Regions from separate parts of the Homo sapiens genome. Here all the other regions are reported to be linked to region 5. Evidence: microRNA targets listed by miRTarBase, many of them from high-throughput screens and not tested one by one. Region 5 holds a microRNA gene; each other region holds the end of a gene's coding sequence. Distances are from middle to middle.

Region 1 (6,421 bases), not on the chromosome of region 5:
AATAAGCGTTAGCTGGGAGGATTTATTTAACAGAGGGGAGAAACTGATCAGTGCATGTGGAGACCTAATGGGTGCGTGACATGGCTGGGAGGACACGTGTGATGAAACTGTGTGAAATGAGGCTGCAGAGTGAAACAGGAGCACATCAGCAGGACCTTGTAAGGGCCTAAGCGAAAGGAAATTTATCCTGAAAGTGACAAGGCTCCAGCAGAAGGTTTTAAGCAGGAAAATGGCATGGCCAGATGATGCTCAACATCCTTTCTAACCTGCTGCAGTTCTCCAGCTCCCCAAGTTCCAACTTACAGCCTGAAAACATACCTGCGCATATATGATAGCAAGCCCCACTACAGCAGGGTTCTGCTGTGGTTCCATTCAGGGGTACCAGAAAGTGTTCCTGGGGGCCCCTCATTCCTGGTCCAGGACATGTGTCCAGGCTAAACCCAGTCCCACTGTGGCTCTGTCATACCTTTCTTCACTGTTTAGCCTGAGGGCTGGGAAGAGATTGGCTTCTGGGGAAACTCAGTGTCTGTTATTGAATGCACATGCCCGGGTACTAAGAGCTGGCTCCGCCATGCTGCTCCCCACTCATGCAGAGCAAGCATTGCTGGTTAGGTCCAGAAGGGGCATCAGAGAGTCCTATCCTGATCACAAAGCAAGTGAGTAGGGAAATGAGGGCTGGATGTCAGCACTTTAAGGGCTCCCCCTTCTCTCCCATGTCCTTCCTGTTGCAGTGCTAGAATTTCCATCCTATAGAGAAGGGGTTTAGGGACAACAACTCAACAGGGGAGGGAGCTTGAAGGTGTATTTGCATATAATTTATTTGATATTGAGGAACACTAGGTGTCCGCATTAAGGAATGAGATGCTGATGGAGAATCGTGGAGAAGGGGTGGCACTAAATCCTTCCCGAACTATCCTTCTTCTTCCCACCCTCAATGCAGCCGGAACCTTTTTTCATTACTAACAAGCCCTGGCTCTCAGCTGCAGAACCAACAAAACCTTTGTCCTCAATTTAAATATTTAATGGGCACAAGGAGCGGCCATTAGAGAATGGAACAGAAGCTAACCAGGTGCCTGGAAAGGATGGATTATGACATGGCCCAAGTGCTCCCTTGCCCTCTGTTAATAATGCAGGAATCACTAGAATGCATGCTCGCTGGTTTCACCTGGGTCCTGTGTTCCCCTTTGGCTCCATTGCCCTGCACAGGGAGCCAAAAAAGTCTTGCTCCTTTTTCAGAGGCCCTGTGCTGGTAGGCTGGGCAGGAGGTTGGCAGAAGAGGGGCGGTGAGGGCTGATTTGCTGCCAGAGGTTTAATGTTGTCCTCGTTCTGTTTTCAGGGGAGGCTCAGAAGCAAGAAGAAGATGAAAGTTGTGCCGCTGCTGAGGCGTTGACAGCGCCTGAGGATGCTGGGAGGCCCGCTGTCAACTCCCCAGCAAATCAGAGCCGCGGGAACCAATGCAAGCTCTTTCATCCTTCATTACCCCAGTTACCTTCTGAGGAAGAAGTAAACAGCCTTGGGAGGGAAATAATTAAACTGACAAAGGAACAGGCAGCTGCAGAACTGGAAGAGGTCAGAAGAGAGAGTCCCATAGAAGGTCAGAGGAGTGAGACGGGGCCAGCCCCGCCAGGCCTGGCCATCCAGGGGGAGCTCCCTAAATCTCACCTGGACTCCTTCGAGGCCAGCCGGCCAGCAGCCAAAGCTTCCACACCGGAAGACGGCAAAGGGATCCCAGAGGGCGGAGGCATGAGGAGCACCGTGAAAACCTGAAGGGGAGAGGGATCTGACACAATGACACATTGAAAGCCCCAGAGAGGGTCAAGAATGAAGCATCGGAATGGTGCGCTCACGTCGCCTTCTCCTGAAATACCTCCGAGTCTGCAAGTGAGAAAACGCACTGATCCTGTTGCAAACTGTGAATATTCTGATGATGCCAGTACAGTTTGATTTATTAAATGTAGGTCCTCAAGCTTCTCAGTGTCATCTCTTTTCTGCCAGAGAGTGCTACTGTGAACAGGGCCAGGCCCAGGAATCGTGTCCACCATATGGCTGGTTTTCAGCATCCGTCTTTCTGTCAGCTTTTGTTTTATCAGAGATAAGATGTTTTTGTATTAGCATTTAATGTTGTCAATCAAAATTATGGGAAGAGCTAGAAACTGATGGGGTTTTTAATCAGGTCCCCATCTTGGTCAAGGTTAGGCAGCTGGAGAGGAAGGTATAATTGAGCAAAACGTGTCCAGAGGACCCATGGCTGCACCCCATCAAGTCAGGGCCCAGGAGGACTGCCTGGCATGGGTGTGCTTGGCATTGTGCCCACAGCACTGCTGTCGTGGTACAGACTGGCAGTTGGAAGGGGCCTTAAGCCGGCTGAGAAGTTTGGGCTTCTGGGTTGAAATCCACAGCCCCGGTTGAGGCCTGTGTGCTGAGTGCCAGAGCTGGAGTTTTCTAGCTTGTAAATCTGGAGAATTAACTGATCTGAAGTGACTGGGAGGGGTGAGCATAAAAGCCGGGGAACAGGACTCCCAGTGGTGGTCTGGTTTTTTTTGTGAGATGAGATGAGAGCTACCACCTGGAAATGCTCATTCTCTGCATTCAGCCTGTCTCACATACAGGATTGTATGGCCATTTCAGGTTTGGGAAAGATCTACCTGCTGGGAGCCAGTCTAGTTTCCTGCACCACCTGGAACTTCCAAACCCTTCACTCCTTCAACAGAATGTTGAGGCTGCCTCATTTGTGCCACCAAGTACGGGAATCTTAAAGACAGAAACAGAGCTCATGACCTTTTATGGGAAAGAGAGAGGAAAACAAAACAACTTCACAACAGCATGGCAAGGGGGGATGTGGAACCAAGGACATGATACAGGGATGGGAAAGGAGGGCATGCTCAATTCTAGCTGGTTCTTTCCTTTCAGATAAAAATGAGCTTTTCTAGTTGGCATCCGGCACTGCAGAAAACTAAAAGTCATCCAGCCATAGCTTTTTCCTTCCCTGGAAAGCCTGAGACTAGATCCCAAAGCTCAGAATGCCTCTGAGAACCAGAATCACTCCTTTGAGAGGCGCTCCTTGCAGGAAAAAGAGAGGCTCCCAGAGTGGTAGCCTCTCAGTGAAAATGCATCCTAAAAATTCAATGTTTATACCAGGCTCATGACACTAAGATGTGACATCTGGACACGAGGGGTCAGCCACGTGGATACATCCCTCCCAGATTGCATCTCCAGGAATCACTCTGCTAGCAGAATGGGCGCCCCATCCCTTACTATGCTGCTCCTCCTCAAAGTGCAGCCCAGAAGGACCCAGGCCTTTGATGCACATTGGGTGGGTCTCCCACTACTTTAGTTGAAATGGGAGCATGCTGGAGTCGGCGTTCTGTTGCTTCTGGTGAGAAGGACATCCCATTGACCCCTGGCCACCAGGTCCAGTATTCCATCCTTCCTTCTGTCCCAGCCTATCGCCCTCCCCACCAGGCCCACCCCCACAACTTCTCCTCAAGGGAGGTTGCTCCCGCAGCTGGAGGGCTTGCACAGACCAGCAGTCACAGAAATCATTCTTCCTGCTGTACTGGGCCTTAACTGCCTGCAAATGTCCAGCACTACTGCATAGGATGCCAGAGCCACCGAAGGAAAACACAGCCAAGTTTAATAATAATAAAAGGAAAAATCTCAGCCTGCAGAACTCTGGTTTTGACCCACCATCGGCCAGATGCACATCTTCAGGGCCTGTTGAGCACCTTCTGAAAAGCAGGGCTCGTAATAGACTCCAGCACATTCCATCAGAGTCAGGAAAACTGCAGTGAGTCCCAGAGAATCTAGGGTGCAGGGCAGGGAGCAGGAGTCATAAGGAGTGATAACCTAAACTGTGTGTAGTCAGCGGGGAGGGTCTTATGTTATCAGGTGAAATGAGAGCCAGTAAGTTAGTTGATCCTGTCACAGATATAACCCTGATAACACCCCATAGATACGCGACACGTGTGTCCTGCCCCTGCTTTCCCCATCCAACATGGTTCTTCTGTTCCACAGACATTAAAGGGGCTTTCTGCAATTACTTACAGCTGTCTTTTGTCTTTTTTAGGATCAAAGTTTAAGGTTGTGGCATTCTGTCCCCTACTTCACTAGATAACCCTGCATCAGTCATGGTCCTCTCAGCTTCAAGCCACACTTAACAGAAACTTAAGCGGTAGGGAAATGAATTATGTTGTATAACAGGAACTTCGAAAGTAAGGCATTCCAGGGCTATACATTCAAGAAAGTTGTCAAGGTTCTAGGTTTCCATCTTCCTGCTCTTCCTGCTGTGTCAGCTGCTTTCTCATGATAACGAGGTGGCTGCAACAGCTCCAGATAACACCTGTTCAAAGGCAGAAGGAAGTTTCTTCCCACATACGTGTGTGTGTGTGTTTCAAGAGCGAGAAACCCAGTTCCTATCACATTTTATTGGTCAGAATGATCACCTGGGGCTTGTGGTCGCATGAGACCTTGTCACATGATGATGTCACATGGCAATGTCTTAACCATTTCTTAGCAAGGGAGATGGTATTACCATGATCTGTTTAGGTTCACCAAGATTCACCCTTAAGAACTGAAGAAGGGCCCTGTCGCTAGACATTCAGACTCTAAAAGGCTGAACACCAAAACAGAATCATATCTTGGGATGTGTAAGAGAGTTGGGAATAGACAACCAATGGTGCTGTCTCTGAACCCCATGTCTTTTTGTTGCTGCATAAAAAGCCAGAAAATCATGTTTCCGATGAGTTTGGAGTTAAGGGGAGGGGCTATGGTTGTTTGCTCAGAAAAAAGCCATCTCATCCCCCCTCCCTGGCATCTTTCTGATCTGTCCTGTTCTGTAGGTGGAATGTTCCCACCTTTGTTTGCCTGTTCAGACGTGTTTGTCCTTCCATTATTTTTCCGGCTGGATTGCCAGCAGAATGCAGAGCAGCCTGGAGAAATGAAACAGAGCTGACAGGTCTCTTAATGAAAGCTTGTTTGCACACTCTGCCTCTCCTGTGATCGCTCTGTGCCTGAGAGCCTCTAGGTGTGGATTTTTACATGAGCGTTTGTCTTTCTTTTGATTAAGGCCTGTAGAAGTGGATTGGTTTTTGTAAACCAGGCATTTCTCATCCCTCACTCTTGCTCTTCCTCCTTCCACACCTTCTCTGCCCACCTTCTTCTCCCCTCCCCGTTCCTTCTCTTGCTCCCACAGCTATTCCCAAAGCCTCTCTAGCTGGGAGGCTCCTGATGGCCTCAGCTCAATGCCGGCTGGACCCTCCCAGCTTTTGGCAATCTTAAGCAAGCTAAATTAGTTTGCCCATCGTTGCTCCTCTTCTGTGACCTCCCTCCCAAACATGCACCACCATCACGATGCAAAGTGCTAGAAAAGGGCTCTGCTATCAATTATTCACATGTTGGAGTAAATTTTTTGATGTGTTATTCCTACCGGGAGCCTTTGCACCCCGGTTCACGATATGGCATGAAAAGTTCTGTCTCCTCTTTAAGGAATGACAAAGACCAGCTGCTTACTCACTGAGGTGATCTTCTCTGTCTCTTTAAAATTACAGCATGCCTTTGCCCCTGTTGGTTTTCACTCCAAAAAAATGGGGTGCCCTCTTGGCTTTGTTGTTTTCCCACAGCCTTGTGGATGACTTGGTACCCTACTTCTTTTTTTTTTTTTTTTTTTTTTTGAGAGTCTCACTCTGTCACCCAGGGTGGAGTGCAGTGGCATGATCTCGGCTCACTGCAACCTCCACTTCCCGAGTTCAAGCGATTCTCCTGCCTCAGCCTCCCGAGTAACTGGGACTACAGGCATGCACCACCATGCCTGGCTAATTTTTGTATTTTTAGTAGAGACGGGGTTTCACTATGTTGACCAGGCTGGTCTCAAACTCCCAACCTCGTGATCTGCCTTCCTCGGCCTCCCAAAGTGCTGGGATTGCAGGCGTGAGCCACTGCGCCCGGCCTGTACCCTCCTTCTTTTTGAAAAAGAGAGTACCTTCTTCCTCTGCTTTCATTCTGAAGCCTCCATTTAAAACACTCCTCCTCCTTAGCAATAGTGAGGGTCCCTTCAGACTAGATAGGATGTCAAAAGGCCAAAGCATTGCCCCCAACACACTCCTTTAATGTAGTCCCTTCTTTCCAGGTGTCTTCCTGAAGAGAGAAAAATTTGTAGATCAGAGAGATGCAATTGGGAGCTCCGTAGTGAATCTAGTTAGAAATGAGTAGCAGAAAAAATAGGAAAGACCCGTCTCTCAATATTATGGTTGCTTCCCAAAACAAAACCAGTTGATACAGCATGAAGGCAATTTAAAATGATAGATATGGACATGCTGCCTTACATTTCATATCACCTCTTTACTAAATGAGAATTTTTTGGATGCATAGGGAAAGTTTGCATAATATTGAAAAGTTTGACTTTCTGGAATCTATGTGAGCTCAG
Region 2 (6,421 bases), 22 Mb from region 5:
TATATATAATTTTATCATATGCACAAATAACTCATAAATATGTATATAAAACTAAAATGTCCACAATTTTTCTAAAAGCACAATTCACAAATGCAATGAATTGGATAGCCATTGGCACATCAAAAATTTTAATAAGTATAAACTGGTCAATTCCAACCATTTGGTAATTTACAATGCAGGTTATCACAGTATCAAAATACACCTTATTAAATTTGTAAAGAATATGCTATGTTGCTAGCTTCCCAAACCAACTGTTTCTAACCAAATAAAGCATATTATTTATATTGGCATACTATACTCTTGCCTGACAGGCAATATTTTTAACTCTAAGAGGGGTAGGTAAAAGATCAGTTTTTTGGAAAATAAAAGATTTATATAAAAAGTCTGGATAAAAAAGCAGTGGTTTAGTACAGATGATTCAACTTTTGGTGAGGTTTCTGTATCTATTTACCTTTTAGACATGGGGAGACATGAGTGCTATGATAACATACGGTTTGGGGAAGGCAGATTTCTAAAGGCTTTTCCTAACTGTAGAAGCTTGTCAAATTTTTATATAACATACAATTTTTAACTGTCAAAGATTCTGTGAAAGTACACAGAAGCAGGTCCGTGTAATTATTTAAGAACAAGGTAGTTTAAAAAATGTGTTGTAAAGCATGGAAGAAAATAATAATAGGTAAGGAAAACCCACAAACATCTGACTCACAAATATTTTCTTATACAGATGCTGAGGTAGAAAAAGTCAAATATGCTTAAGAAGAAAACATACGAAGGATAGGTAAAGATATACAAGTTTTAAACTATGAAATTCCTCTAATGCAAATGAACTCAATACTGAATGACTTTTCCACAGTCCTCCATGCTTCCTTCCTTGCCATGGAAACGTTCTAATTAAATTGAAATTTAAATCATAACCAAATCCAAATGCCTAATAAAGTCCTTTCATCACTCTGTTGTCCTTCAGTTGTCTTTTATACTCTATCTGGTATTTTATAGATATTATTTGACTGGAATACTCATGTATCCAAATGTATATTTTAATTTTCTTCCTATTTAAGTGTCTTCAATTTCTATAGGAAAGAGGTCCTATACAGTTTCCATGCTGTAAACTGAATGAGGCTGAGTGTAGGATGAACATGGCAATCAGAGAAAGCTGCTAAATGAGCCTCTTGTTTGGAAAGAGATAAGCTTGAAGATAAAGGTACAGTCAGATAGGTGGCAGAAAGTCTCCAGACTGAAGGGTTTGAACATCACCTTATAAACAATGGTAAGTTACTGGAAGTCCTCGAGCAGAAAAGTAACAAGAGGAAAACAGTATTTTAGGAATACACATTTCAGAACATAAGCTGTAGGAGAAGAAACCAGAGGTAAGGAAATAAGTAGTGCCCAACAGAAAAAACAAACAACCAGTGGATGCAAGGCACTGCAAAAAGATAAAAAGAAGCCTAAGATCCTGTAATGGTAATCAACTGAAAGTGGGAGAAACATGAAGAACCTAAAATGCCTCTGACATTTCAAGGCTAAATAACTTAGGACAATAGTGTATTCCCTGGGTAGAAAATGAAAGCAGGAGGTAGTCTGAGATTTCAGGAGACTCCAACTACAGAGGTTTAGAGATGAATTAGCACTAGGTGGCTCATCACGCCTGTAATCCCAGCACTTTGGGAGGCCGAGGCGGGCGGATCATGAGGTCAGGAGATCGAGCCCAACATGGTGAAACCCCGTCTCTACTAAAAATACAAAAAAAATTAGCCGGGCGTGGTGGCGGGCACCTGTAGTCCCAGCTACTTGGGAGGCTGAGGCAGGAGAATGGCGTGAACCCGGGAGGCAGAGCTTGCAGTGAGCCGAGATCGTGCCACTGCACTCCAGCCTGGGCGACAGAGCAAGACTCTGCCTCAAAACAACAACAACAACAACAACAAAAAAAAAAAAAAAAAAAAAAAGAGAGAGAAAAGCTGGAGTTATCAGTTCACCACTAACAGAATGTTGAGACAAAGCAGATGAAGGGTCGTATCTTACGACTGGGGACAGGAAAGAAGACCATGAAGGTGCTCTCAAGATACAGTGGTCATTTTTGGTCTGGGGACTGGTTCCAGGATCCCCTGTGCATACCATAATCTGCACTTACTCAAGTCCTGCAGTTAACCCTGAGGAACCTGCCTCTACAAAAAGTTGGTCCTCCATATACTCAGATTTTGCATCCCACAAATACTGTATTTTAGATCCACATATAAGTGGACCTGCACAGTTCAAACTTGTGTTGCTCAAGGGTCAACTGTATATGTAGGAAGGAGCAGTACCATTGTGGAAATGATGGGAAGATAAAAGAAAATACAATTGTCACAGAGAGGACAAAGAACATGAGAAAGGAGAACAAACTCAGATTTGACCAAAAGACAATGGCTTGTATTACACTGGTAGAAGCAGCAGCCTCAGAAATTACAGGGTATTTAGGGAAAGTGGCTATTAAAGAAGCAGGTATAAGGGACTCCAAGTCTGGGAATGAAAGAGGGCAAGATTGTAGTAATAAGTGAAGGATCAGTGAAGATTTTAAAAAAAAGGAACTGAGCCATAAATTTTCTTCTTTTTTCAATTTAAAAAAAAGCTTTAAAAAAAGTTACTTATACATAAATACAAAACATATAATACACACACATATTGTTACACACTTTGTTGTTACCATTCTTAAGTACAAATTTTAGTTATTCTTAGTATCTATAGATATATGTCCTAAAGCATGATTCAGTAGCAGCTTTTCCTATCCTTTAAACGTTTTCATACTCTAAGGAGCAAGATTCTCAAAGGTATCTTTATCAATCTCCTTTGGAAAAAAAAAACCCACACACACACACACACACACACACACACACACACACACACAAAAACACATATACACATAAATAACCTCTTTAAAGGCATCACCTTAAATAGATAAAACTCCTTAGTGACTGCTGGAACTTTCCAAGCCATACATTATTTGTTTAGTAAGTCACTATCATGATGAAAAGAAATTCAGTGTTATGAAGTCTATTAAACAGCCTTAAGCTTTCATTTATTCCCTTTGATGAAGCTGATTTGAGAGAAGGACCATTTATATGTTATGAAAATAACAGACACTCCTTTGGATTTCACAGATTATAATTAAGAGAACGCTATTAACTACAGAATACTGATTGCAAAGTATTTCATTTTTAAAGATACTCCTTGAGCCAGAGAAGGGTTGAAATGTTTTCTTGAAGGAAGAGTAGAACCATGATAAAGACTATAATCCCAAGAAGGAAACAAAGTACTTCAAAGTTAGAAAACATGATGTAAGAAAACATTGGAAAGTGGGATCATTCATCTGGGACATATCATTAGAGAAAGATAAAATTGAGAGGTGTTCTTTGCCTTAATTGTGCACGAGTAATAAACTAATCGTGTCTGTACATTTCCCAACAGAATTTGGGCCACCAAATATTTTCACGTACATTATCCCATTGATTCTCACAACAACACTGTCAAATAGTAAAGGGATTCTTCTTTTCTTCTCCATGAAGAAACTAGACTGAGAAAGGTTACGTAACTAGCTCAAGATCATAAAGCAAAGCTGAGTTTGAGACCCAGGTGGGTTCCCAAAACTAGGACTGGAGCTCTTTCAACCAAATAATGCTCAATAGGAAAAGGAGTCAAGGACAAGCTCCAACTGGTAAAACAATCTGGATGAGTTAAGAGTTCAAAAGTTGAGAAACAATGTTGTTAAAGGAAACTAAACAGGTTTCTTGGATAAAATGCTAAGTTATAAGAAGCTCTGGCTAAAGAGCAAGAAGATGGATCAGCTGACTTCTCAGACCACTACTATTGTTACTTTTCTAGAATATTTTTATTTACTCTCCTCTTAAAGTCTCCTTTATTTCCTCCTCCTGATATGATTTTTTTTTTAATGACAACTCCAAAAGAAAGGATGAATAAAAAAAAAATTTGGCAACTCTTGGAACCTAAATATAAACCCTGTTGGCATGTTTACACTTCTTTTTGGATATCAGCTGTATAATCCTTTAGCCAGATTCAGTCTCATTCCTAACACAGTTAAGTGTGCTTTGTAAGGGTTTTCTTTGTTAACTTGCCTCACACATATAAAAAAGAAAAACAAATACACAGTCACATTTCCCAACACCTTTCCCCCACCAAAAACACAGTATAGGGTAGCCAGGTACTTTGAAAAAGTATCATTTTAAAACATAACTATTATTGTAAAAATAAAAAATAAACATGACAAATCAGTCACAAGGCAGGGAGGCAGGAAGTCATACTACAACAAAAAGTCTATGGATGAAGTATCTGCTTAATACTCACACACAGAAAACACTCTCAGAAAATGTTTCTTTAATTTAGTTTAACTAAAATTTCATCAAGGTAGAATGCAGTTTTGTAAAAAGTTCCAAGGATCCTATTACACAGTTGCTAATTAACCTTCAGTTCCTTATTTATACATTTTTTACTTACAGATATAAAAGGAAAAAAAATCCTAGAAATTATTTTAAACAGAACATTATACAATTAATTAAAAGTAGGAATTAGAGTGGAACAATGTGGCTTTAGATACTGATAATTAATAGACAGGATGAATCACAAAATATATTAAGTATTATCATTTTCCAGTCTCTGCATCTCATCTTGTCCCATCTGTCCAAGGTGAGACAAAAGTTTGCTATAGGCTTCCCTGTTTAAGAAAAAAGAAAAGAAAGCAAATATATTAACATTTTCATTATTTTTCATTTCAGTATTTACAAATTAAGTCTGCCCATCATCCATCCATCCATCTATTCAGCCATCCATCCAGCAGGCTTAGCACAACACTTCTTAAAAAGTAATGCTTTATATCTATTGTGAGTAAACCTAGATGTTAAGATGTATTAAAGTATGATTTTTATATATAAAATGTGTGCTAAAAATGACATGTAAAAGTTCATTAACCTTCCGAAATATTATAATGCTCACGGGTAATAAAATGCATTCATGGAATATTATTTAAGGACAATGATGGTATGATTACAATGGGAAGACTTGTATCACAAGCGTAAGTATTAAAACAAAAATTCTGTAACCATAAAATAGACCTGTGTAGCAATTTCAGTATATATCCCATTTTCTTCTTTTAACTTCTTATAAGTAACAAAGTTTGAAAATAAAATATTGTTTCTCCTCCTACATTCTCTAGTACTTCCCTGTATTTGGAAGGTGTTTTAGATGATTTATTGTGCCTAGTAGTTATCTCACTAGTCTAAATACCTGTTCTGTTCAGAATCTTTAGAACCAAACTTCTTATGGGCCTGCATAACCACACAAGGTAGTAGGCCAGAATATTTGTTTTAACAACATACTGCATTAGGGTGGTTCACACACAGCCTCTCTAGTTTTTTCACTCAAATTTGAAGACTGCTCAGAGAAGCCAGATGTGAGACATGTCTGTGCATGAGCTTGTTTTGTGACATGACAATAAACACCATTTCTTCAAGCTACAATTTGAAGTGATTCAATCTTCTCTCCTTAGAAAACCACAGGAGGCTAGCCAAGTCACCATGCAGAAGAAAGGAGATGTTCCATTCTGGCATACAAAAGCTTTACAAGGATGATCTCTCCAGTCCGCACCCCCTGCCTTTTATATGAAATGGCATTGAAAAAATGGATTCCATTAGTTAGCTAAAGCTATAATCAACATAGTCATGTCTTCAAGAAAGATCTCATATATTGTTTAATAAAAAATTTTTGTCTAAAAATTGGAATATGCATATTCATTAGAGTGTGTATTTGTACAGATAAACAGACACACATGCATATGATTATAGTCATGCACTACATTAAAAACATTTTGGTCAATGATGGGCTGCATTTTGGTCAATGATGGATCCCATTAAGATTATAATGGTACTGAAAAATTCCTAATGCCTGGTGATGTTGTAGCCATTGTAATGTCTTAGTGTAATGCCTTACTCGTGTTGTTTGTGGTGATGCAGGTATAAACAAACCTATTGTACTGTCAGTCATATAAAAGTCTAGCACACACAACTATACATAGTATATAATACTTGATAATAAGAAAGAATGTTACTGGTTTATGTATTTACTATACTTTACTTTTTATTGTTATTTTAGAGTGTACTCCTCTTTATACTTATAAAAATAAAAGTTAACTGTAAAACAGACTCAGGCAGGTCCTTCAGGAGGTATTCCAGAAGAAGGCTTCCTTATTGCAGGAGACGACAGCTCCATGTGCGTTACTGACCCTGAAGACCTTCCAGTGAAGTAAGATGTAGAGGTGGAAGACAGTGATGTTGATCATCCTGACCCTGTGTAGGCTCAGGCTAATGCGTGTGTGTCTTCATTTTTTACAAAATAGTTTAAAAATAAAAAATAATTTAAAAATAGAAAAAAGCTTATT
Region 3 (5,863 bases), not on the chromosome of region 5:
CTCTGATTTCCTAATTCCTTACCATTGACACCCTGAGCATCCGAGGCCATGACTCGGTGGATTTCTTGTGGCCTCTTTTTCTCTTTTGCTGGGAAAATTTTCTTGCTTTTAAAAATATAGACGGTCATCCTTTTATGTAACAGTTTCTAAGCCCAAGGGAATGACAATAGTTCTCCAACCACAAAATGCAGTTATAATTGTCTGAAGAACTAGTTCCCCTACAAAACAGGTGTATATAGATGACCTATTTGTATTAAAAAGTGTCCAAAACACTAGCTTTGTGATATTAAATGTAATTATCTTATTCAACAATAATATTGATGAAGAATAATAGGGAGTGGTCGGGTGGCTATGCTCTTCTTATTGCCACACAAAAGTCTAATGCAATTTATCATAAACATTAAGTTCGGAAAGAAAACCTCTCTTCAAATATGACAGAATGTATACATTTTTCAATTAATTGTTTTAGATCATGGCCCTCCAACCCTTTTGTTTGTTGAAATCTTAAAAGATCAAAAACTCAAATTGAATTTGGTTTTATTCCATTTTTCTTTAGAGCTTTGATCCCCCCCTCCCTTGGAATTTATCAATAGTTTCATTCTCTTTCATTTTCTTTAGACTTCAGAAGCCAAATGGTGACATCAGGAAAATGTCATCTGAGCAGGCTCGCTGGCCTTCCTTTGAAGCAGCGCTTGTTCCCTGGGGCTACAGGGAAAGGCAAGCTGGCAGATATGCAGGGTGTCTGTCCCATGACTAATTCAAAGGAAAGAAAAGACACATTTGATACATTCCTATTATAAAACAACAATAGAAATGAATGCATAGATTTATTCACCTTTAATTATTTTCTTATGAGAGGACATCAACATTTTCTTCTGCCATTATAATGATCCGGTAAACTACATAAAATTCAGATTATATTATGCTGATGTTGAAGCACACAAGAATGATATTTAAAGTATAAGCACATTTCAAAAAGCCTGGAAAATGATCTGAGAAATTAGAACAGGTGATAGAGATGAATTATAGGCACCTATTAAGACATACCCTTTGAAAAATAACATCTTTAAAGTTTATAAAGCATCCTGGATTTTAGAGAAACTTACTGAAACCACAATAATAGAACATCGCAGGGGTTTGGAGTATTTAGGTAAAGTGAAAAAAACTACAAAGATTATTCTTCCCAGTCTGTAACTCAGCATGCTACAACCTTTTGCTATCTAATGGGTATCTTTGTAACTCACGTGGACGCCTTGCAGCACAGAACATCGTTGGTAGTAGAATTTGTTTTATGAAGTCATTGCTTATGAATAAGATGTAAAGGAAGAAAAATGGGGGTGGAGATGATATTTTTAGTTTTTTGAAAGCAGTGCTACTGTTTTGGGATCCCATGAGTATCACACAGAACTCACTATTCCACAGTAAATAGAAATTTAATTGCTTTCGTCTTCATTATATGGATTTTTATGTGCAGCTAAAAACAATTTGAAAAATGTAATAAAATTACACTAAATGTTTACTTGGAACAGAGTTTTTTTTTCCTCCAGCTAATTTAAGAATCTTTTTTATTGAAACTTTCCTGATGAGAAATAGAAATCAATTCCATTCATTTCTCATCAAAAACTACATTTAAATGATTAGGAAAAAATGAGCAGTTCCAAGTGACGGTCAATGGGTGAAACGTGTCCTATTGAAGAACGTTATTATTTAATACCCTCATGCCCTTTATTGTGATACGAGTTGAGTTTGATGTCTGGCTGGAAACTGACAGCAATAGAATTTTGACAAAAGTTCATCCATCCTTTCAGACTCTGGAATTCATAATATACCTTTTGTCCAAGTTGTGTAATGTTTATTTGTGAAGTCCATTCATAAATCTTAGATTTTAATTGGTTGTTGCTTTTATTGAGCAGATTTATATAAGCATAATTCTAACTAAATTAGATACCACTATTTAAGAATAGTGATGATATATTTTTCCATCCTGGGAAATACATTTTAAATCATTTTAACTCATTGTAAACATTTGGATAGTGGTTTTTAGAGAGCTCTCATAAATAATTTTTTTAAAAAAGCAATAGAAGTGGGCAGTGTTTGAACATAGGGTAATAATTCATACCAATTATATTGCTGAACATAAGTTTGAAGCCTCAATAATACATCCTAATTCATACCTTATGGTCTGATGGCAATTAAAATACCACCATTAAATATTTTGCAAACACACATAAAAGCTGAAATCTTGCTTATGTAGAATAATATTCAGTACTTTATTACCCAGAATATTACCTCTTTATTTTCTTGACAAAGTATAATCATTAGAGAGCCATTCTGAGAGTAACTTTAATCCACACGAAGGCTTGGACTTCGTATTATTGTGACTGTTAATACTGTTACTACTGTCATGGCTATTGATGCTTTTGAGCCTCTGCTGATTTTCATATCATGTAATTAGAACAGGCACAATCAGATGGTCCTAATGTAGTGATTAACACACACCTGCAATCTCTTTCCACAGCGGAGAATCCAAACAACTAAACACAAAAGGGCTTACTTACTGATTAAGGAGATTGTGTTTAAAGGGTCTGTCCACATTGATTTAGAAGATTGTGTTTAAACAATCTATCTACAAGCGGGTTGGCTTCTAGTGTCTGAAGGTCAACAAACCTTAAATGAGGCAGAGGGACTACTGAGAGGTTAAATATTTCATGTTCATGATGCTCATAGTACCCTAATAGGTGACTGTAATGTTTACCTAGTGATGACACAGGCCCCAGTGCTTCAACTTGGGTTAATAGGGAGTTGTGTGGTTTGGACACACATGTGGCTTGTGACTTCCTTACTTCACGTAAGGTCTCCCTACAATGGTCATGCATCATCATTTCAGGTGTCTTTTCATAAAGTAAGTTGGCAATTTCTGTATATCAAATTAAAATGGCATGGACATTGGAATCATAAAGATGAGAGTTTATATCTGATGGGCTGCTTAAAGCTATAAGCTTCAATTTCAGTATCAATACAAAAATGATAAAAATTACCTTGTAGGCATATGTCAGTGCTGTGGACTGAACTATGTCCTCCCAGAATTCCTATGCTGAAACGCTGATCCCCAGTATGATGAAATTTGGAGGCAGGGTCTTTGGGATATGATTAGGTCATGAGGGCAGAGGCCTCGTGATGGAATTCATGCCCTTATAAGAAGAGACACCGGAGAGGGTGCTTCCTCCCCTTCTTCTCTGAACATGCGAGGGTACGATGAGAAGATGGCCATCTGCAATCCAGGAAGCAGGCCCTCACCAGACACGGGATCTGTGGAAATTTTCATCTTGGACTTCCTAGGCTTCAGAACTGTGGGAATACATGCTTGTTGTTGAAGCCACCCTGCTGATGGCCATTTGTTACAGCAGCCCTAACCAAAATAGCCAGTTTAGGAATCACATGGGCTGAGCACCTCGCACAGTCAGCACAATGCTCAGTGAACATTTGAAGCAAGTTCTTGCAATGTGCAATGCTTAAACAGTTTATTTTTCACCCTGGCCTAAATATATTGTGGGGAGGAGAATGCAATTCAAAGTTTTAATTCAACTAAGATCATTAAGTGCCTATTATGTCCATAGCATGGCCCAAGAAGCCATGTATCAAGGGAAAGTTGGCTTCTTCCATTGCTTCTTCGCGGGGGTGGAAGTCAGAAGGGAAAAACATGAGAGAAATAGGCAGGGAATGGGACTCGGCTGTCGTCAGGCTGGAGGTCAGGCAGAACACTTCCTTGTGGTTGCTGGGTGGCTGCAGTAACATTGCAGTAACTACATATTGACCATGTGCTTTTATTTGCTGTGTTCTGATGCTTTGGCATCTGGGGCCCTGCTGACCTTGGAGGAATTGCCATTTCCAGGGTTAGCCACGTCCAAAAGATAATGATGACTCACCCCAGAACATGATTTTCAAAGACAAGTCAACCAATCTAGAGCCCACATCCCTAGTAAGTCTCCCCTGTGGGCTCTCATAGGGCTGTCATTCCAGGCCACTCTCCACCCACCCTAATCACCTCAAGGCTAGGTCCCAGACAGGTAGGGATGGCTCCGCTAACCCAGAACCCACCGATATTTCTCAAAGCAGTCAGTTCTATGCCTGCTGATCCTGCCTTGTCCTTTCCTAGTGTTGTGCAAACTAAAATAAAAGGCTCCCCCTATGCCCTCTGCTTCCTGGCTGACCTTGGTGTGGCCCTCTGATGGCACTATGTGTCCTCTTCTCTGAGCTTTCTGAGGATGACAAGCCGTCTTTTCAATGGGACTCCCTTCCAGACCTGTTGGTCTCACCATACTGGAATCATCATAAAGCCTGTATTGTAAAACATCATTGGTGTCTAAAGTTTGCACAATGCTATGGCCCCCACATTAAGGGAGTCTGGGTGAGATCACTTCATTGTCCCTACTTCTCTGACCAGAAAACACAAGAGTTCATGGGAGACAATAATAACAACAACAAAAACAATAGAAGAACACAGTTGTACCTCTTTATTGGCACAGTAACTTTTCAAAGGCTGGTATGAATAAAAAGTTCCAAGTAGCAAGACAAGGTGGTCTGGAGCCACTGCTCAGAACTTTCCGACAGCCGACGAAAGCACATCAATGAACAAGGCCTTGCATTATGGGAGGGTTGAGGATATACAGTGAGGGAATCATGCAGTGTAAGTCCCGGGGGACGAGCGCTGTGCGATGCAGCCCCTACTGCTCAAACCAGTACATGGCAGCGTGCTCATTTGTACTGTGTAGGCCTTTGAATGAATATGATCATTTTACACCACCGGCTATGGATTTGAAGCCATACGTGTTTAACCGTGTGCCATGTGATTTCCTGTGATCTATGCTGAAGTCGGGAGGTGAAATTTAACTAAAGGGTACACAATCCACTTATCCAGAAATACAGGGCATAGGAAAGAACAGCCTCCTCATCCATGAGTAACACCTAAAACATGGGGCTCAATTCATAGTTTTGCAAGGGGTGACACTGGCGAAGCTAAAACAACAATGTAGTTTCAAGATTTAGGTGCGTTAGGTGAAAAAAAAGGACTGTGGAGGAAAAAAATAATCTAGAAATGATTTTTTAAAATCTGTATTTTGAAGAAAGGAAGCACCACCAATTGCATAAATTTATAAAATTACAGTAATAAACATGTAAATAATTATCAGGTTTATAATACCAATAAAACACAAGTAGCTACAAAGAAATAAAATATATGTCCCGTATACTGTATTATAATAAAACCATTGGAAGTACAATAAACAGACTGTTGAACCGTAGAAAAACAACTGTACAGAGTGTGCATGGATTGCTCCTTTCCTCCGCTACTCTCTCGCTCTGGCCACGTCCACACTTTTCCCAGCCTCTCTCTTGCTACCTAGGGGTAGCACAGAGCCGTAAATGAGGAGCTTGAAAATCAGAGTGTATCACCACGAGATGGATAAGAAAGAACCCACACACACACACACAAACACACACACACACACACGGGATCTCATATATTTAGTGTCTGTGTCCTGTGCTTTTTTTGTCTAAATGCGTGGAGAGAAGCCCCAGCGCATGTCAGAAGGCAGCCTTCTGTTGTTGCAGCCCGGAATCAGTAGGCAGTTCTATTTTGTAAGTCTGCAGTTCAGGCCACATCAAATGGTGGTGTCCCAGAGCTCAGACGGCAGCCTGTTGCAGGAGGCCCCTTCCGGCTTCTTCAGAAGGCTGGGCTTCTTGCAAGGTGGTGGGGGAGGCACCCTGGGCTCAGCGTGGTGCAGGATCTGCTGCCAGTCTTGTCCTTCCTCACAGAGCTTTCTCCTCCAGTCCAAGAGTTCCTGCAGGGCCACACTTTCATTCT
Region 4 (6,421 bases), not on the chromosome of region 5:
AATAGGAAAACCTTCCTTGGCAGTGCAATGACTAATTGTTTCCCCTTCACAGAAGAAAAGCCAAAAAATCCTCAACTGTCATATGCACAAGGAAGAGGTTTGCTGATAGAATTCTGTGTCAGGGCTGGGGAGCAAACTGGTGATGTGGCTGCAGAATCTTTCTCCTTATGGGGTTGGCAAAGGGGGGCGCTGCCTTCATTGGCAAGACAAGGCAGGCAGAAAATTGAGAGTGACCGAGCATGCCCTTGGGGTGAATTACCAGGGTCTGCTTTCTGTAATGCAGATAATTGCCTCAATTCCCTGCCTCCCTTTGAAGTTAATGAAGAGTTGGCTAAGGCCTGCTTACCTCTGGAAGGGACTCAGCTTGGTTCTGGACATGTGTTCCACTGGTGAAAATCACAGGAAATTCACAGAACACACTGACATTCTGTTTTTCAGGTTCAAGAAGAATAGCATCCCCTGCTTTGAAAGGACAACAGCTGGAGAAGTACAAGGAAGGTGCTGTTTCATGGCCAAAAACTTAGGTTGCATGGAAACATTTTTAAAAACATGTTTAAATTGCTTTTCACACCATATAAACAAGGCAATTAGAAAAATAATTAAAGGGAATATCATTGCTTCCACAGTTAATGGGGATTTTTTGATCCTCAAATGCAAGTAAACTACCTTCTAATGCTTCACATGACAGATTAAATAAATGGAAGAACCTTTTCAATTCTGATGTTTAAAAAATGAATAAATACTTGATCCTTTGTCCATATTTCCTCTTAATGGGTAGGACTCATAGAAGATGTCCTTAGACCAGTCACGCTTCATGGGGACTAGGGCATGTTGGTGAATGGTTTTTACTAAAGTTAGGCAACTTTGGCTTGATTCACCCCTAAATCTATGAATGTATATTGTGAGCCAGCAGTGGTAGAATGGAAGTCATAAGATCTCCTCAGCATTGTGATATAAATATAGCTATAGTTAGGCAATTTGAACATGTAGGCAAAACTCTCCTAATCAACACACATGTAGGCTATATGCTGGTACATGCTTTAAACATGGAGGTAACCCCACACGAGACATTCAGTGACAGGTAATATGCTGGATTTGTGCAGTACCGATTTGGCTCAGCTGGAGGAACATGTCCCGGAATTCCTCTCTCTCATGGTTCTGGATTGGAGTAGGTCATAAAGAAATTTGCATTAATTTGATCAGCAGCTATTTTATACTCATAAGGTCAGTGTACAGACCCAAGCATGGTGACAGCTTGAAAATATGACTCCAGGCCAAAAAGGGGAGCTAGAAGAGACCAGAGACAGCTCCCTGGACCCAGAGCTCTTCCAGCTCCTGCCAGCCTCCTCCTTCAGCTTTGCAAAGTACTGGCCAGGTGTGTGTGCAGCTCCATGGCAACCAGCATCAGCTTTTCCTGAGATCACACACAGCATTGCAGTGGAGGCCGTGAGACAGACATGGGTTCTGTTTGTTCTTATGGACTTCCCTTCATCCTTGCTGCATTCACAGTCGACCTACAGTGACTTCAGGCCCAGAACCAGATGCAGAGGGAACAGCCTGGCCTAGACTTCTCCACCAGCACCCACAATTGTGTAAGGCTGAAGCTCTATAATAAATCTTTATTCTGTCATTCTCTGATTCTGCCTCCCTGATCCAACCCTGACTCATATGGGTAGCTTGACGATTAATTCAGGGACTCAGTGGTATCAGAGGACCCAGGTTCATTCTTGTCGGAATCTCTTGTCGCCGTAAGAGGACTTCAGCAGTCCTGAGCATTTTCTCCCCATACGATAACCTGTCTCTTCTTAAAATGGAGAAACACTTTCCCAGAAACAGACCTCTGGAATAATTTTCCTCATACCCTAGTGAGCAGATTTCTTTATCTGCTTATGCTGAACCAGTCTAGTGGCAAGAGGACTGCAATTGTCAGGGTTGGCTCAGACAGATCAAAGTGGATGCTCTTGAAAAATCAGGGTACCATTTTGAGCAAGGTGAACCAAATTTGAGTTTTGTGGTTGGCGGAGAGGGATGCACAGCCACAGAGTGAACTAGCAGGTATGTGTGTCGGGCTGTATCCAAAGCAGTCGCTCCTTCTTACCATCGGTCTTAACGCAATGAGAAAACAACATGAAACATTTAACATGGAACTTTTCTAGGGTTTTTTTTTTTTCCTGGAATAGTAATTTTTTAAAACTTCAGTAAAAAATGTTTGGAATTATCCTTTAATAAGCCAATGTTTATATTCAGGAAACATCTCTATATCCCAAACCTTTTCTTAGAAATTTGCTGTTGTCATATTACCAATCCTGAAGTTAGGATGCTATTGTTTCTCCACACCCCAGGCACATACTCAGTAAAGTAAAACTTCAGCTTGGGGATGCATCCAGTTTTGTTATTAAGTATCATGTTCTCTCACTAGGACACAATTTTTAAAAAGGAACCAAGGCTAGGGGGAAGCAGAGATGGTAGACAAATATTATCTCAATGGAGTTTTTCTTCACAATGGAATTTTTTTAAAAGATATCTAAGTTATATTTATTTTTTTAAAAAAAATTTACTTTAAGTAAGTTCTGGGATACACGTGCAGAACATGCAGGTTTGTTACATAGGTATATGTGTGCCATGGTGGTTTGCTGTACCTATTGAACCGTCCTCTAGGTTCCCTCCCCCGCCCCCCACCCTGCAACAGGCCCTGGTGTGTGTTGTTCCCCTCCCTGTGTCCATGTGTTCTCCTTGTTCAGCTCCCACTTATGAGTGAGAACATGTGGTTTGGTTTTCTGTTCCTGTGTTAGTTTGCTGATAATGATGGCTTCCAGCTTCATCCATGTCCATGCAAAGGACATGATCTCATTCCTTTTCATGGCTGCATAGTATTCCATGGTGTTTGTATCACATTTTCTTTATCCAGTCTACCATTGATGGGTATTCGGGTTGGTTCCATGTCTTTACTATTGTAAATAGTGCAATAAACATACATGTGCATGTGTCTTTATAGTAGAATGATTTATAATCCTTTGGGTATATACCCAGTAATGGGATTGCTGGTTCAAATGGTATTTCTGTTTCTAGATCCTTGAGGAATCGCCACACAGTCTTCCACAATGGTTGAACTAATTTACATTCCCACCAAGAGTGTAAAGGCATTCCTGTTTCTCCACAGCCTTGCCAGCATCTATTGTTTGACTTTTTAATAATTAACATTCTGACTGGAATTCTTAATACTTTGCTATTTGTGATAACCCATCACAACATTGTAGCAAAAACAGAGTTAACTACATACAAGGAGAGGATTGTGAAACTGAGGTCAGATAAAATTGGACCAGGTGGCAGTTACACCACAATTCAGAATTTGCTTTCTCTTATAGAGTTGAAACCTTGATCTACTAAGTCACACAAAAGCCTGGTTATAGTGACAAGTTCACAAGCATTAACATTAGACTGTTTCTTTTATGTAAATTGATGACTAAAATTAAGGGAAACAGATTAGGTTAGCTGAGTTCTCCCTTCTCTTGCTTAAAAATTTATATGAAAATCTAAATTTATTAGAAGATTGATTAGCAATATGCCAATTGAGCCAGAAGAGTTGTTTAAATTATCTTCATGGCTAGTCACTCAACTATGCAAGCCTTGTGTGGTCAAGTGTAACCTAACTTCAGAGATTCTTATGTTCATAGTTTCATGTGCATCCATGTGAAGAGACCACCAAACAGGCTTTGTGTGAGCAATAAAGCTGTTTATTTCACCTGGGTGCAGGTGGGCTGAGTCCGAAAAGAGAGTCAGCGAAGGGTGATGGATTATCATTAGTTCTTATAGGTTTTGGGTTAGGCGGTGAAGTTAAGAGCAATGTTTTGTGGGCAGGGTGGATCTCACAAAGTACATTCTCAAGGGTGGGGAGAATTACAAAGAACCTTCTTAAGGGTGGGGAAGATTACAAAGTACCTTCTTAAGGGTGGGGGAGATTACAAAGTACATTGATCAGTTAGGGTGGGGCAGGAACAAATCACAATGGTGGAATGTCATCAGTTAAGGCTATTTTTACTTCTTTTGTGGATCTTCAGTTACTTTAGGCCATCTGGATGTATACGTGCAAATCACAGGGGATGCGATGCTTGGCTTGGGCTCAGAGGCCTGACACATAGGGCCCTTTTCCCTAGCAATCTTAAAGATACTGTCTTAGTCTTTGGTGCCCTAAGATTCATCCCAAATCGAGTTGGTTACCCTGATACAACCGTTCATATAAAACTAGACTAAAATACCTTGTCAAATCAATCATCTTGGTTTCCAGGCTCTGGTTTTTAACCTTTCCACTAAGGTGACTTTGGCTCTTACCTGCTCTCTCACCCATTATCAGTTGATCAGATTGGGAATCAACCCCTAGTGATGCATTTCTTCCAGATTCTTAGTGGAGAGCTCACTGTAACCTCCTGGGCTGACTGTAACAGAAATGTAAATGAATGAGACAGTTCTTTTCAAAGTTAAATTGGAATCCTTAACATCCAGGCATTTATACTCAATGCAGGTAGTGGGTCAGTGAATGATGTCTTGAAAAGTATGTCTTGAAAAATAAATGTGATACCAGAAAATGGTTACAACTCTTTGCAGTGGTAGAATTGTCTGCTCCGACAGGCCATTGCCTGGAATTGTGGTGAAGAAAGGGGAGATGAAGTCACTGGATATTAAGGATGCAGGTCATGAGTTGTCACAGTCTTCTCTCATTTCCTATACTTTTCCTGAAAGAGGCTAGAAGCAAGAAAAATAGACTCTAAATGTCTGTTGTTCAAGTCAGAATAACCATTTATATCTTAAATATTTATTGATAGTAGTGTTTTGGGGTGGGCGGCAAAAAGCTTTAGTCTATTGCTTGCATCTGAAATTAAAGATCCATGAGACCATTATAAAATAAGTCTGAGTCTTATCAGTTAATTTTAATCTCCCTACTAGCTGTTTCATGGTTTTTAACAGTGGAAAAAACAAGTTTACCACACTCCTGGCCCTTATTTATACTCTGATTAATGGAACACATAAATACTAAAAGGAATGCAGTAAAAAGGAAGTATACAATCAAACTATAATTTGCAAGTGAATTATAGTTGTGTTTCTTTCCACTTGTATACAATCCCATGTTTCATGCTTCTATCATAAGAATAAGTACATTGGCTCACCCTCATATGCACAATGCCATTGGAGATCTTCTCTACAAATAACAATAGGAGACAAGAAGAACAACCATGTATTTAAGCAAGTAGAGCCTGTTTAATTATAGACATTGGGAAAAGCCTAATTATATTTTTCGTGCTATATTATCCTGCAACCCCTGCTGCTGTTTTTTTCTGTATAAAAGTCTTGCTTGATGATATGTGAATCAGTCAGAACTTCAATTACCCTTTTAAAGAAGCATTTTTATACTGTATATGGTTTGATAAAGGAAATAATGCCTTACCACATTTTCTTCGCCATTATCGGGTGCACTGGGACAGCGCTCACCAGGAGGGACACAACATCTTTCTACAGGAAAAAAAAAGAGAACTTAAAAATAATTTCTTTGCAAACACCAAAATTCTCCCTTAGTCCTATCTCAATATAATCATGTTATTAGAATCATCTGAGTTACTCTCCCTGCATATCTTTAACAAACAACATGAAAAATGCATTCAGTGTAAAAACACATCATCAGAAGCAGCAGTAAATGTGTATGGTTGATCCAGGTGCTCCAAAGCCGGGGAATAAAGGCAGTTCAGTCAGCTCAGCAATTCCTGGCTCCTTGTGATCCTTGGCCTGGTTCCTACCAACTGCTAACAATGGAAATGTCATAGCCAAAGAGGGGATGAGAGTGATGGTTAAAGAAAAAGGGATATGTCATTTCTCAAAGAAGGTCTCCTTATGGACTTTCCTAAAATATGGCCCTTTAATACATATCTTAGACAAAGTACATTTTAAAACAGTAATAGAAAAGGGAATTTAAAAATAAAACATATGAACCACAGTCATGAAACTACAACCAGGGAGCTGGAGCTAGGAAAGGTTTTGTGGCTTTTCATATAACAGCTTCAAATATATTTTCAGCCCATCTCACTGCAGAAGTATGGAATATATCTATTTTTTAAAGTGGCCAATACTGTGACAGAGTTTTTGCCGATATCTTTTGACTGCTCCTCCAGAACCAGAATCCATTCTTCTCTCAGACATGGGAGGCTGACCTTGTTGGGCTCCATCAGCAGGGTGTCTGCTCCTCCTGGCTTCTAGCTGGGCTGTAGATCAGAGACAGGGAAGAGTGAAATTAGGTATTTACTCTCCCAGCTGTTTCCCTGTAAGGTCACCTTGGTATGGCTCTGTCCTTCAATTGAAAGTCACTCTCTGGTTCTTTGAAGGGTTTTTCGTGTGTCTATCTCCTTCATTTCTGCTCTGATCTTAGTTATTTTTT
Region 5 (6,421 bases):
TTCTCAAATCTCCTCCTCAGATCTGAGATTTCTCAAATCTCCTCCTCAGATTTGATATTTCTCAAATCTCCTATCTCTCTACCACTATTGTCCTAATCCATGGCCCTCATAATTTCTCACCAATACTATTACAATAGCTTCCCATTTAATTTCCTTGATTCCCATCTGTCTCTGCCAAGGGTGATCTATTTAAGACACAGAAAAGCAGTAGTACATGAGAGCTAAGGCAGCTAAGAATCAGGAGAAAGTTCTTTTCACGAATAAATGACCCCAGTATCTTTGCAGACAAGTAAGTTAAGCTTGATAGTTTCAGTAAAATAGCAGCTTATCCATCCCATGTGTACAGGGAAGGAAGAGAGGACACACGGTCCACAGCTGTGAACAATTCAGAGAACAACATCATATAGTGCAGCAATACTGAGTGATCAGACAAAATTGGCCTACATGACTTTGTAGAGAGCCATGTTGTGGTAACAATTTAACACCAAGTGTCTTAAAGCAACACAAATGTACTAACCTTAGAATTCCTGAGGTTAGAAGTCTGAAAATAGTTTTACTGGGCCAAAATCTGAAGGCTCTTGGGGAGAACTTGTTTCCCTGCCTTTTCCAGCTTCCAGAGGCCACCTGTGTTCCTTGGCTCCCTCTTTCACTTAGAAGGATCCTTGTGATTACAGTTGCCCATCCAAATAGTCAAGGATAATCTCCCCATCTCAAGATCCCTAACCTAACCACATCTGCTAATGCTAATGTCAGATAACATCTTCACAGGTTCTAGGTATTAGAACGTGAACATCTTTGAGGGTGCCATTGTGCTGCTACAGTCCAGTTCCATAATTTTCTCTAGCAATGCTCCACAATCCAGAAGTAAGAATAGAGAGAGCAAATAGCAACAGTGACTCAGGATTGAAGGTTAAAGATATACATGGTCCTAAATAGAGCAATATTATAGTAATGAGCTTGGCTCCAGATCAAATTGTTATTTATTCCAGGACAGTTATCTTTGCCAACTCCCTCATGATCACAGTAGTACTCTTAACTGGGTTCCTTTTTCTGATAATTACTAGGGGGTTGAAACAAGAAAGTGTGGACAGATATGAATTGAATTGCAGAAGTTTTCTGTATGTTGCATAAGGTTAATTCAGAAACATCCAACCAAATGTGCTATAGCCTCGAACTGTATAAGATTTCAAGTTATCTTTAGGTACATAGACAAAGACTTTTAACAAAACCAACTCCCACAGTGACAATTTATGCTAGAAAAGAAGTAACTGCAAACATGTTTTAGGCAAATGATGACTATGAAAGATTTTATTTAAACTAAAATAAATTATTTTTTAAAGGTTTTGCTCCATGCCCTGGAATCATTTACATATTTTTTTTCCTTTTTCTGATGTAGGGCAATGTGATAGATTCAAGTTTAGATCTTGAAGATTACAATTAACATACAAGGAAAGAATTTATCCCATGCTTATGATTGTAGGGTGGCCTGTAGGTGACTGGCAAGTCACACAAAAGATTAGTATTTCAGCCTCCATTATCCTTTCCACCCCTTTCATCTGAGGGTGTTTACTGAGATAATGAGAGTCAAAGTCACACTCATGTGAGGGTGTTTAGGGTGGTAATAAGAGTCATAGTCACTTAGGCCCCTAACAATAGCTGATAAACAGCAGGAGCTAAGAAAACAGCAGATGCAAAGTTGTGCTTCCATTTTTAGATACAGTTGATCTTCTTTACTCATGGACTCCCTATTTGTAAATTATCTTACTTGCTAAAATTTACATGTAACCCCAAAATCTAACACTCAAGGTGTGCTAAATAACCTTTGTTCAGGCATGAGTTATAGTGATATTTGGCTGTGGCTTCACTGTTAATGGATCAATATATATTTTAAAAGGTGTTTTAAACAGAAACACACATAAAACAAGGTTATACATTGATCAGTTGGTGAAAATGTTGTGACCAGAGGGTGTCAGGAACCTAGCTCTGTATTCTCCCTAGACCATGCAATACAACGACCACGAATAATGAGAACTGACTATATTTTATTTGCTGCTCAACCTTTACTTGACAGCTATGGTCCCCAACAATGTAGACTATATATCCATCAGAAAAGAAAATATAGCTGGGCACAGTGGCTTGCACCTATAATCCCAGCTACTCAGAAAACTGAGGTGGAAGGATCACTTGACCCCAGGAGTGTAAGGTTGCAGCAAGCTATGATGGCACCCCTGCACTCCAGCCTGGGCAACATAGCCAGACTCTATCTCTAAAAAATAAATAAATAAACAAACAAACAAAATAAAGACATATAAAAACCTACTTTATTGTTTTTTTGTGTGTGGGTTTTTTTTTTTTTTTTTTGAGATGGAGTTTCACTGTGCACCCAGGCTGGAGTGCAGTGGCGCAATCTCAGCTCACCACAACCTCCGCCTCCTGGGTTCAAGCAATTCTCCTGCCTCAGCCTCCCGAGTAGCTGGGATTACAGGCATGCACCACCACACTCGGCTAATTTTTGTATTTTTAGTAGAGACAGGGTTTCACCATGTTGGCCAGGCTGGTCTCGAACTCCTGACTTCAAGTGTGATCCACCCACCTCGGCCTCCCAAAGTGCTGGGATTACAGGTGTGAGCCACTGCGCCTGGCCTAAAAACCTACTTTATTGTTAAAGAGTATGTCAGCAGAGGCTTAACCAAGTGGGGAGGGGATAGTGGGTACAAACTGACTTCTCTCTCCTGCATCAATTATCTCCTTTAATCTTTATAATAATTCTATGAAGTACGCTTTGTCATTCTCATTTTACAGATGAGGACAAGACAGCCCTGAGTGGTTAAAATATGTATTAAAAGTCAAACACTAGGAAGTGGTGAAGGTGAACTTCAAATAAGGGAATGCCTAACTTACTGAACCACACCTCTGACCCATATGATGGGCACTGCTGCCTCACTGGGCCGTTTGGCTCTGGGAACAATGTGGCTCTCCGGCTGCCCATGAGAAACCTAAACCTAACACAAACACATTAACTCCGGGGTTTCCAAGACTGAAATTTCCTTTTACCCGCTCTACCCCCCAGCCAAATATATTAGAGATTTGTAACCAGAATATGTCAACTGAGTCATCAAAACCTTATTAGAGAATTTAGAAGGTATCAGTATAGTTTCTTTATCCAAGAAAAGCACGTACATAAGTTCTACCCAAAAAGAACGAAACCAAATAGAAAAATTTGCCCATGATTACACATCTAAAATTTGTCAGAATTAATGTACTGATAAATATGTTGTAATTAAAATATATGATTAATATATTCCAGTTACATTTTCTCAAGTCTGTTGGAAAATATATGTGAAGTATTAGGTTGGCACAAAAGCAACTGAGGTTCTTGCCATTGAAAATAAAGGCCAAAACCACAATTACTTTTGCGCCAACCTAAATATATAGTCTGAAATGGAATAATAAATAGTATTAAATAATTAATAGTACCAAGCACAATGTCTTTCATAAAGTAGGCATTCGACAAGTTTACCAAACACATAGACCTATATATTCTACTTCGGTCATATCTAAGTATATTTTATTACTCTGAGTAGACCATTAAACACACACACACACACACCTTCCTCCCAAAATTCACTAGGCGAAACATCTAAAGGTAGGCAAAGAATACTATTTAGTATTTTGGTCATAAAATGTTTTCTGAAAGAAATGAGAATCTTTAAAACTGTGCTTAAGGAGCTACAGGATGAAAAATGCAAATACCTGTGAACACATAGACACACATTCGCCAGAATAAACAAAATCTGCTCAACCACCAAGGCCAATGTCTAGAATTTGTAAATATCCAAATGCGACACTTCATTTTATAAGTAAAAAAGACATGACAAGTAAAAGGGCAAGTAACAATTTATTCAGAAATTAAATATCAGCATTCATGGATTTGGCCTAATAGGACTAGCATAAGTTTGGTCCAATTTCCTATATATGCACTGATGATCCTAACAATGATCTGGAGTTGATGAAGAACTCCAGTGTGATATATGAATGGTATGATGTAAATGTAAGTATACTATATGAGAAAGTGAAAACTTATTAACCCCTATGGAAACTTCTAGTTAACTAAAATAATTCATTCTCTAATAATTTCGCATAAATAGGAATTTACCCTGTTATTTTACTAAAATTATCAATTTTATTGATAATTTAAATATTAGTAATGCACTTTATAGATGAAATGTTTTACTTTCCAACTTCCTCAAACTTTGGTATAGAGATGGTACATGTAAATAAGGAAATACAGAATTAGCAATTAAAAAAATCAAAGTACTATCTCCTTTACAATTAAATGAGGTAGCACATGGTAGCCAAGTCTAAAATATCCAAATCCCACATATGATTGTTAATCACTAAGTCTTGTTTTTCCATGTACTATAGATCCTTTGATAGTTTCAGCTTCCATTTGCATCTCAAGATAATAGTGTAAGATACAGGATAAAAAATTCATATATTCAACTTCACTACTTTTTATACATTCTCGTTGAAGTTTTGGTAGAAAAGAAAGATGTAATCCTTGGTGAAATAAGGTTACAAATGACAGTTGTTCACTGATGTAATTTAGTTAAAAGTTAAGAATCAGAGATTTTCTAAAATTTTTGCTTGGTCTTAAAGGTTAAGCATACCAAAATACAACTGGCAATCTCCAACTTGCAAATATCATTGTTTCAAAAATTCATTTTTATATATTAATTGATTGGCAGCCAAAGAATATTTTCCAATATTTTGAAGGACCATTAACTCTCTAGGTCAATCTAAAAAGCCCCCTATGGTTTAGACCACACTTGACATATAAAATATAAACCTAATAGTTTGATATGATTCCCCCATATCAAACTACCATTTATAACATTGTTTTTCTTTATTTTTATTTTTTAAAAAGTAGAGATGGGATCTCAATGTTGCTGTTTTTATTTATCTATTTATCTAATCCTGAAATCAGTTAGTGATTGTCTCCCATAGGTGTCTATCTCCAAAAAAGGGACATGGGGCACCAATTCTGACATTTACTTAATGTCCTTTACATTCTGAAGTGGGCTGCAGGATAGAAACTTCCTGTGGTGAATAAAAAGAATGGCGTTACGAACTCCCGTCATTCACATCCTTTCCATTTCATGGCATAATATTCAAATTTATTTGAATGCTTATGAAGATTTTCTTTAAAAAAAAAAACTCACAAGATCAATTGAAAGGGCAAAATAACAGTATTTTATCAATACTCCCCTGGCCCCCATTACCTCCTATTTTCTTCCACAAACTAATTAGCTTTATAGACCCAGGTTATTCTTCATTCCCATCTCACATTTAAGAGATACAAAATTTTCAAAAATATCACAATTTTAAAAGTTAAAGTATAGGGAACTTATTAATTAAAATGAAGAAATTACTCCAGTCACATATTCCTGCTGAATCTTTATCTTTCATAACACTTTTTAAGACTGGTGATTAGAGGCTAGCAAAGGATTTTCATAAACTAAACAGATAGTGAATCAATAAAAACTGGAAAACTTGCAATTTACTGTGTTTAGGAATGGGGTCTAAGCAACAATCTAATCAAGAATGAAAGCAGTCAAAAGAAAGACATTTAAAATAACCACAGTAGTAATTTTCACACCAAGTATGGCAGTCTCTAAGTTAATGTTATTTTAAATACGTTTCAGTTTGGAATGACTAAACCTGTTAATAAAAACATGAAAATATTATGACATTTAGCTGACAGCACACACAATAAACCTCTGTTACAAAGTGACCAAGTCATAGTATACAAAATATACAACCTATAAACCCAGAAAGTTCCACAGTAAGTATACAGAGGAGACACAGGTTGGTTTCACCCTTATCAAAAATTTGATTCAGATGGTAAGTAAAACATGGTTCCAACATGGAAAAACAATAACTCTGTGGTCTCTTATTGAATAAGTAATATTAGAAAGAAGGTAGACACAGGGAAAAGAGGCCTGTTAGTGTGGCCACCCCCACCTAGACCAATCTAGAGAGCTGAATGTGAGTCCAGGTTGAGTAATCTTCAAATGGCACCGAGCCCTCACACCTTCTATACTTATAAAATGAGAGGGTCAGCCTGGTCACAGTCTAAAGTCTAAACCTTTAATCTTTTTTTTTTTTTTTTTTTTTTTGAGATAGAGTCTTGCTCTGTCACTCAGGCTGGAGTGCAGTGGCATGATCTCAACTGCAACCTCCGCCTCCTGGGTTCAAGCAATTCTTGTGCCTCAGCCTCCCAAGTAGCTGGGATTACAAGCACCCACCACCACACCAGCTAATTTTTTGTATTTTTTGTAAAGACGGGATTTCACCATGTTGGCCAGGCTGGTCTCGAACTCATGGCCTCAAGTGATCTGCCTGCCTTGGCCTCCCAAAG

Evidence for each region. The annotated mature microRNA hsa-miR-548b-3p reads CAAGAACCUCAGUUGCUUUUGU and lies in region 5 at 3,358-3,379, opposite strand. An mRNA with a match to its seed (bases 2 to 7 or 8) in the 3' UTR can be bound and repressed. Matches are read on the target gene's strand: a 7mer-m8 pairs with bases 2 to 8, a 7mer-A1 pairs with bases 2 to 7 and ends in A, and an 8mer does both.
Region 1: miRTarBase lists CCDC149 as a target of hsa-miR-548b-3p. Seed matches in the 3' UTR shown: 7mer-m8 at 2,895-2,901 and 7mer-m8 at 3,997-4,003.
Region 2: miRTarBase lists MMS22L as a target of hsa-miR-548b-3p. Seed matches in the 3' UTR shown: 7mer-m8 at 1,490-1,496 and 7mer-A1 at 621-627.
Region 3: the mRNA of MYO16 is a reported target of hsa-miR-548b-3p. Seed matches in the 3' UTR shown: 7mer-m8 at 5,468-5,474.
Region 4: miRTarBase lists HHLA2 as a target of hsa-miR-548b-3p. Seed matches in the 3' UTR shown: 7mer-m8 at 3,903-3,909.

The regions. Positions count from the first base shown.
Region 1 is chr4:24,803,735-24,810,155 of GRCh38, reverse strand. It overlaps CCDC149 (coiled-coil domain containing 149), which reads left to right. Exons shown (of 13, transcript NM_001395273.1): 13 at 1,337-6,421. The coding sequence ends at 1,767. Among named protein-coding and RNA genes, the nearest start is that of SOD3, 11 kb to the right of the region's middle. RefSeq lists an enhancer at 833-1,413.
Region 2 is chr6:97,142,186-97,148,606 of GRCh38, forward strand. MMS22L (MMS22 like, DNA repair protein) reads right to left here. Exons shown (of 25, transcript NM_001350599.2): 25 at 1-4,702. The coding sequence ends at 4,621. Among named protein-coding and RNA genes, the nearest start is that of MMS22L, 140 kb to the right of the region's middle.
Region 3 is chr13:109,206,634-109,212,496 of GRCh38, reverse strand. It overlaps MYO16 (myosin XVI), which reads right to left. Exons shown (of 35, transcript NM_001198950.3): 35 at 4,492-5,863. The coding sequence ends at 5,661. Among named protein-coding and RNA genes, the nearest start is that of MYO16-AS1, 42 kb to the right of the region's middle. RefSeq lists an enhancer at 181-1,380.
Region 4 is chr3:108,375,577-108,381,997 of GRCh38, reverse strand. It overlaps HHLA2 (HHLA2 member of B7 family), which reads right to left. Exons shown (of 10, transcript NM_001282556.2): 8 at 6,198-6,248; 9 at 5,441-5,505; 10 at 3,713-4,740. The coding sequence ends at 4,720. MYH15 (myosin heavy chain 15) reads left to right here. Exons shown (of 41, transcript NM_014981.3): 41 at 439-1,630. The coding sequence ends at 453. LOC124900545 (a long non-coding RNA gene) reads right to left here and starts at 458. Exons shown (of 2, transcript XR_007095998.1): 1 at 347-458. RefSeq lists an enhancer at 4,010-5,209.
Region 5 is chr6:119,065,705-119,072,125 of GRCh38, forward strand. It overlaps MIR548B (microRNA 548b), which reads right to left and starts at 3,439; the gene lies at 3,343-3,439. The region is part of intron 1 of FAM184A (family with sequence similarity 184 member A); the gene reads right to left.